2 linked regions of the Homo sapiens genome follow. The protein of the gene in region 2 interacts with the protein of the main gene of each other region in a biochemical or structural test. Each region holds a gene or a part of one and is shown on either strand. Other genes may lie near its edges.

Region 1 (3,750 bases), on a different chromosome or scaffold from region 2:
AATCATGATGGAAGTGGAGAAGCCAAACAGATCAAAGGTCCAGGATGGGGATGGGGCACAGATTATGTGCCCGATTATGAGGCATAATTGTAGACCAACGAGAGCTGGTGGGGACTGCCCCCACCCTAAAGTCCCTGCCTGCCAGCCCACAGTCTAAGCTGGCATAACCCAAACCCACATCAGAGTCCCAAGGAGGGGAACACAGGGCATTCAGACTTTGGAGCGAACACAGCAAAGGCTTTGGAGTCAACAAAGGCTATCCACCTTCCCAACGCAGAGGAGGAAACCAGCATTCCCGTGTGATGCGGTGTGGGCTAGAGATATAAATAGCTTCTAAAAAGGTTAGCAAAATGCACACATGACAAATCTACAGTAGGTTACTAAGGGAAACCAGGATGCTCAGTGCCAGCATCTCACCTGTTGCAGCTGATGCCTGGAAGGAACCCTGGGGCTCCTCCCAGGCTCTGCTCACCGGGCTGAGCAAGGATGGAACACGGGGCTACAAGGACCCAGAGTCTGATGTTGTGAGTGGCATTTCCTAAACCCTACTAATGTTCCCTGCAGGCCTTCTCCAAAGTAGAAAACCTTTTTCCTAATCACATCTCTGTCTGGTTCCCATAAGCCCACTTGTTCCCAATTTCCTCATCTGGGAGAAGTCTACCTTGAAGGGTGTTGTGAGGATGACTTGCCTGGAGGTGGGAGGAGCCTGGTGAGTGGTGATCCCATGGCCCTTTCTCCTTCCCTTTTCTCATCATGCCAGGCCCTTCTGCTAAAATGCAGAAGGTGGGGCATGCCAAGCCTGCCTCCGGTGGAGATTCCCTTCTGTAGGGGAAGTGCCTTGTGGGCACCCAGAGGGCATGCAGGGCAGCCACAGCTGCTGGGTTATATCAAGTGTAAAACAAATCTCACTTGTCATTGAAAAAGCAACACCAAGGGACACCAGAGTAAAAGATATTTATAGCTGTCATGGACGCTTCCCTGAACTTGTGTGTTTAAGTTAACAGACATAGAAACAATACATCCCAAAGCACACAAATTGACTTCCACACACTGAGACAGTGGCTAAATCTGGAACTCTAGGGATCCCAAATTCACCCCCAACACACATCCTCCTGAGTGTGGATATTCTGGGACCTGAATAAACTGGGCTTCAGTCCTTCCCTCTCCAGGGTATCAAGTTCTGCCTTCCTGCCAAGGATTAAGAGATCAGCCTAGAGCCCACAGCTAGAGAGCAGCTTGCCAGGCAGCTCCCCACTGGCCTGTCTGGACAGAGAGGGAGAGCTCTTTCCACTTCCCATCGCTCCAAACAGTGCAGTAGCAGGAGGGAAAATCCCATCTCTCCAGTCCCTCCTTGAGCAGACAATGGGGTTGCTGCAGAGCCTACACTGAAGTCCTGAAGGCTGGGCAAGAAAGGAGAAGCTCCACAGAGGCCCAGGCAGGAAGCCAACCCCTCACCCCCAAAACACACGCAAGGCCCCTAGTGAGAAGGAAGATGCCTCGGTCAACTTCCACTCCAAAATGCTTGGCAGTCAAAATGTGACAGCTGCTCCTGGACCACCCATGGGCTTGGCCAACAGAGGGGAAGTGTTCCCTTTGGCAGTGGTGCTCTGAGTGTGCTGGGATGTCCCCAGGCAGTGCACATGATGGGGACTGAAGTCCAATACACTCTCTCTCCCATTCTCTCTCTTTGTCTGCTAATAGCAGCAGAGGTCAAGTGGAAAGCAGCCTGCTCTAGAAGGCCAAAGGTCATCTACAACAATCACCCTTTGACTGGTAGATGCCCTAATATGTCAGTCGGACAAATGATGCCTATGGCTTTGAACTTGACTGGGGTTAAGGCAGGGACCATGAGTGAGCAAGTGGACTAGAGGTTCCAAACTGAGGGAGGCACTGTTGCTGTTATTCAAATACAATGAGTGCCCACATGCATGAGTGAACATTTTGGAGAGAAGGCAACTGACCTGTAGTGCCATGAGCTGCCTCATTCCATCTTAACTCTCTGAAAGTAGAACCAACTGAAGCCTACATACCCTACTTGTCTGTCAAATTCTGCATGGAACTCTAAGCTATTTCTCTTCTATCAATGGGGATACGGGCTCTGCTTAAGACAGAAAACCATCTGATACAACAGGGCATTTACGGCAGGGAGCACTGGGCTTGGAACCATGGATCCCACAATAGGGACTATGGGAATTACAATGCGCAAAGCTGTTGCACACCTTGGTTGAAAAGGTTCTAGGATCTGGCATTCTAGTGGAATTTCTATCAACTCCAGGCACAATATACTGTTCTCTTCCACTCTGTGAACCTTTCTCCCCACAAAACTCCCCATAGTGGAATATAATAATTTCCTGTACTATTTGTCACTCACCCACTATGCACAAAGTATCAGCTGCTTTTAAATATGTTAAAGAGTTTAAGCCAGCCTATGACCTTGTAATGCAGATTCTAATTATTCACGTTTTTACTAGATCACAAAGGTAAATAATTTAGCTAGAATCACATGACTAGCTAAGGTGGAGATCTGAGCCCAGGCCTGTTTTGTTCCAAAGCCCATGGACCTTTCTCTGCTGCCCACTAGGCTTAAGGATTTGTGTATATATATATATGTATATACATATATATATATATATATATATATATATATATATACACATATATATATATATATATATATGTATATGTGTATACGGATACATATATATATATATAAACCCTTAATGTTTTTTATTTACTTTTTATTTACATGTTTATTTATCATTGTTATTATTGTAAGACAAATCTGATATGGATTCCTAGAAGCCTGAGGTCTTAATGACCAAGTGCAATGTAGAGATCTCCTATGTAACACATGAACAGAGACCCGAGACAGACATTTCTCCCTTTGCTGACATCAGCTGTGGTAGATCCCCATTTTAAATTCATTCCTTTGCACTCCCCAGGTGCAAAAGTACCTGGACATAGTACCAGGTACACAGCAGGCACTTGCCATTTGGTCTCATCATTGCTAAGTTGCTTATTAGTAATAAACCCTCAAATGCTGGGAGATGAAATATTACTAGCTTTGATGCAAAAACAAAAGTCTAGACACTGGGAAAAACACCAATGGGGCCTAACACACATCTAGGCCCCACCAATGGTGTCCAGCATTGGGTGAAAACAGTAGTATTTGAGCCTTACTAATATGTTCATCCTGCTTGGTCTATATCTTATGATCCTCCACTAAAAAGAGTAATTACGGCCATATATGGAAAGCCCTGGTTTTGTAAGTGGGGTCAACTTCAAGTGACTCTGGATCTAAGTTCTCTCCTCTGTAGAGGTGCCATCCAACACCCACTCAGAGAATGGCTGTGAAGATTACAGGTACCACAACTATGGATGCACAAACAATCCAATCAACCCCGTGGCATCTCAGCATTCCCATGGTGTCCTGTGTGTATAACTACTTCAAACTGGAGCAGATTCAGACCCCTGTCCCAATCCTAGCAACACCCCTCAGTAGCTGTGTGACCTCAGGCAAGCAACCTAGCTTCTCTGAGCCTGTTTCCTCACCGCAAAGATGAAATACCACCTATCTCATGGGGTTGTTTTATGGACTAAATAAAATAATATTTGCATGTGTCTGCCTCTGGCCCCATATGTAGGAAAAAACTCAGTAAATACTAGCAGGGTTTAAACATACTCAGAACAGCTCTGACTACACACATCCTGTTGAACAGGGAGTGCGGTCAAAAATTATCATGGTCACAA
Region 2 (3,750 bases):
TACAAGATGAGGAACTGAGACAGAATGGAGGGACTATCCCGTGTTCCAGCATCCAGCAGACAAGGAACACAATACTGGTCTGACTCCCTTCATGTTGGGGAATCACACAAAAAAGCACCCTCAAGATTACCAGAAGGCGGTACATTAGAGATCTTGGAGCTAAAGGAAGGGTAAGACTCAGGAACTCACTCTTGTCAGTCTTGGTGACAGTGACATTGAAGGTGGGGGCCCCACCGGTGCTCTTGGTACGAAGATCCATGCTAAATTCCCCATCCTGCAGCAGTGAGTCCCGGATCACCGAACATTTCTGGCCCCCAAGTGTCAGCCCATTCACGTAAAAACTTGACCGGTCTTTGCCAACCAGGACACCCACCTCAGCTGGCTGGAAGAGGAACCAAGCGCCCATCAAGTTAGTCAGTGCACCAAGATTCCCACCGTGTTCTCCAAAGACCCACCTGTCTTCCACTTCTGAGAACCACCCCGCCGTGGGGGCTAAGTATAAATTATATACTCAGTACACATCAATGAACTGTGAGAAACTCTGAGGACTGTGGGACGTTAGTGCAGAAAAAGATCATGATTCTGAAACTTAGAATATGGAACCAGGGAGGAAGGGATGACATACTCCTCTAGAGATTTAGATGTCAGTGTTAATGGGGAAAGTAAACCCAGGAAATAAAGGGAGTCAGTGAGGTAAGTGAGGAGCCTTTGGATGCTCAGAACTCTCCTTCAGGAAAAGCAGAAGCGGAGAGGGGAAGGGAGGGGGGCGGGCGAGGCAAGAGAAGCAACTTTGCCCTTATTTGGTCAAAGGTTCTGCAGGAGCTGTTAGGGCCCGGACGCCTGGGTCTCCAAGTAACCTAGAGTTTAGCTCCAGGTATCTCTGCTCTGAGATGAGGAAGCAGACCCCTGGGGGCTTTCCGGGAAAGTTGGAAAACTTTTGAAGGTGGACAGGGGCCAGACCCGGCAGGCCAGCTCTCGGGTCTAGGTACCCCGGGAACCTTTCCCCCCTCCCCCTTTCACCCCAAGCCCCCACATCCGGTCCCCTCCCGCCCGGAAACCCCCTTCCCCCCCCTTTTGAACTTCCGCTCCCCCTCCCCACTTCCGGGCAGTGTGGACAGGGAGATGGTGGTGGGAGCAGCGGTAGTAAACCAATATACTTTCGCTTATGCTGTCTCAGAACTTCTCACAAAGTTCCCCTGCTCCAGGCCCCGCCGGATGGCGGGAAGGGAGGGCGAGGGGACTTCCGGGATTGGCCTCGCAGGAATGTTGAATCCAACGTGCTGAGCTGGGGGGGCGTGTGGTGGCCTCGCCCTCTCTAACGGAGTTAGGAGGGGCCAGAAGCCCACAGAGGGTGGGCAAGGGACCAAGACCACGCGCCTGGGGCTCCCTTCCGCACCAGGAGAAACAATGGTAGAGGGACGCGGGCTGGCAGCCGGACGGGGAGCTGGGGGTCCAAGGATCCCCGGGTCCCCTCTCAATCCCAATCCCCAGTAAAAACTGAGGCGCGTCCCCGCCCCGCCCTGGGAGAGGCGGAAGTGGGCCGCCGCACCGGGCGCCGCGCCCCTCCCCGCCCTGTGCCCCGGATGTAACGCCCCGTCGCGGAAAGCGGGGTAGCGGGCGGGATGGGCGCCGCCGCCTGGGGCATAGGACCTACGGGCAACTGAGGGACCCACTCACGTGCAGCCGCCATTCGCGCCGCTTCCAGGGCAAGCACCCAGTCAGGGCCTCTCGCTGCGCGCCCTAGACCGCGCCCGCCCCCACCCAAGTCCCTCCCTCAGGGTCCAAACCGGAGCAGTGCCCCGGACCGCGCAGGCCTCGCAGTACCGTGATGTTGACGAACGTTTTCCCGGGGACGGCGGCCCAGACGGAGGGCGAGTCCTTGTAGCCCACGATGGCCGCGTCCTGACAGGTCCCGTCCGCCATGAGGTTGTCGATGTAGGCGTTCCACCCGGCCATGGCGCTGCTACTGGGGCTGCTCTCGGCGCTGCTGCTGGGGCCGCGGACTGGGCTCGAGCTGCCTCGGCTGGCGGGCGGGGGGAGGCGGAGAGCTCGGGGCACGCGCTGCCGTCCGGACCGCGGCTCCGCTCGCTGTGCAGCAGCCCTCGCACCGCCACTTCCTGCTCCTCCCCCCCCCCGCCCCGCTAGATTTTTATTTGCAAAGGACGGTAGGGGCGGGGCCTACTCCCCATTCCCTCCCTCCCCCACTCGCCAGCCCAGACACCGAACTTTGCAAATGCAATTTTAAAAATCCCTCCCCCTATTGCAAAATTTGCAGAGTTCGATGGAAAGCAATGCAGAAGGATGGGGGGTGGCGGGAGAGAGGTGAAGGGTAGGGTTTGCTCCAATTTGCACTGAATATAAACCAGACTTTGGTATCGGGGCAGGGAGTGAGCCAGAAGAAGGAAGGAAGGAGAAAGCAGGAGGAATTAGCAAGCTGCAAATTTAGCAAATTAAGGAGAGTTCGGGGAGCCCAGGGTTAAACGGGATGACTCCTCCTTCCCCCACCTCCGCCGAAGGGAAGGACCGGCGGGCGGCGGCGCGTGTGCCCGCGCCTGCGCCTGCGCCGGGGCCGGGAGTGCATGGGGCGGTCGGGGCCGGAGCCGGCTGCACGGGAGCGCGCCCGGCCCGACCCGTGTGGACCCTGCGGGAAAGGAAGGCGGGCTGGGGACGTGTCTCCCGCCTGGCGGAAGGGGCGGGGGCGAAGCCGTGCGCGCTGCCGCCTCACCACCCTTGATTTTACTTATTCAAGTAATAAGAAAGCAAAGAAGAGTTTGGCCAAATCCTCTAGTCGCTCTCATAGCTGAAGGCACCCACCGGGGCCACTTCTGTCCCCAGCGTCTTCTCGGGTCGTGCAGGTTGGGTTCACCAGGGCCCATTCTCAGTCTAGAGGATTGTCCCTTCTCTGGATCGGCTCTAGCCCAGGGCCTCACCCCACATCCCAGCCCCGCCCGCCCCAGGCAGGCAATGTCTGGATCACCGGCCGTGCCCCTTGGCCTGTGTCTGCAGAGGTCACAGAGCGCGGACACCCGCGGGGCTTAACAGGCGGGGCTATTTTTCGAGGCGGAAGAATACTCAAGTTGCAAGAGTGGCAACTTTTTCAAGAAGGGGAAAGTCCCACTTCGGGCCCTTTGGGTTTCTTCGCAGTCAGATGTGCGCTCACAGCCACCTGGGGAGGGCGGGACGGGCGGGACGGCCGTGCGGCGGCCGCGGTGAAACCGCCTCCTCCGACCCGCCGCCGAGGGCTGGGCGGCTTCCGGAGCCTGGGCTAGGGGCAAGGGGTCACCGAGCGCGGCCCGGGCGGAAAGGGGGTTGGTTTTCTCTCTCCTCCCGAGCGCGGCGCGCATCCCTGGCGTCCACGCCGAATCCCACAGTCCCCGACGCCCCTCGAGTCCGTGTTCCTCGACAGCCGCGCGGCTGAGTCACTGGCGGGCTCGGGCGGGGCCGCACCCGGGCACGTGGCGGCGCTCCCCGCCCGCCATCTCCTGACCCCTGGCCCACCGCACCCCTACCCCAGGGTGGAAAAATCCCGGGAGGAGCGGCCTGAGATGAGGGGGCGGGGCGAGAGGGGAGACTGGACGGGTGGCGGGGCAGGTGGCCTGGGGTGGGGGCTGGGAGGCCGCGCGGGCCGGCGGGGCGGGGAGCAGGGGTGGGGAGAGGGCGGCGGGGGTGAGTCACCGGGCGCGCGCTGCCCCGGCGCCGACGGGAAGGGCCTCCGAGTCGGGCCGAGGCGCCGTGTGTCCCCCGCCGGTC

The links. The genes of interacting proteins can lie anywhere in the genome.
Region 1: the proteins of PFN1 (region 2) and RHOQ form a complex in vitro, tested with the Homo sapiens proteins (one study listed by BioGRID).

Annotation. Positions count from the first base shown.
Region 1 is NC_000002.12:46,545,379-46,549,128, reverse strand, and holds part of RHOQ (rho-related GTP-binding protein RhoQ), read right to left. Parts: intron 1-3,750. UniProt on the Homo sapiens protein: Plasma membrane-associated small GTPase which cycles between an active GTP-bound and an inactive GDP-bound state. In active state binds to a variety of effector proteins to regulate cellular responses. Involved in epithelial cell polarization processes.
Region 2 is NC_000017.11:4,946,439-4,950,188, forward strand, and holds the start of PFN1 (profilin-1), read right to left. Parts: upstream 2,093-3,750; 5' UTR 1,957-2,092; coding exon 1,825-1,956; intron 383-1,824; coding exon 190-382; coding exon of another isoform or gene 1-189. UniProt on the Homo sapiens protein: Binds to actin and affects the structure of the cytoskeleton. At high concentrations, profilin prevents the polymerization of actin, whereas it enhances it at low concentrations. By binding to PIP2, it inhibits the formation of IP3 and DG.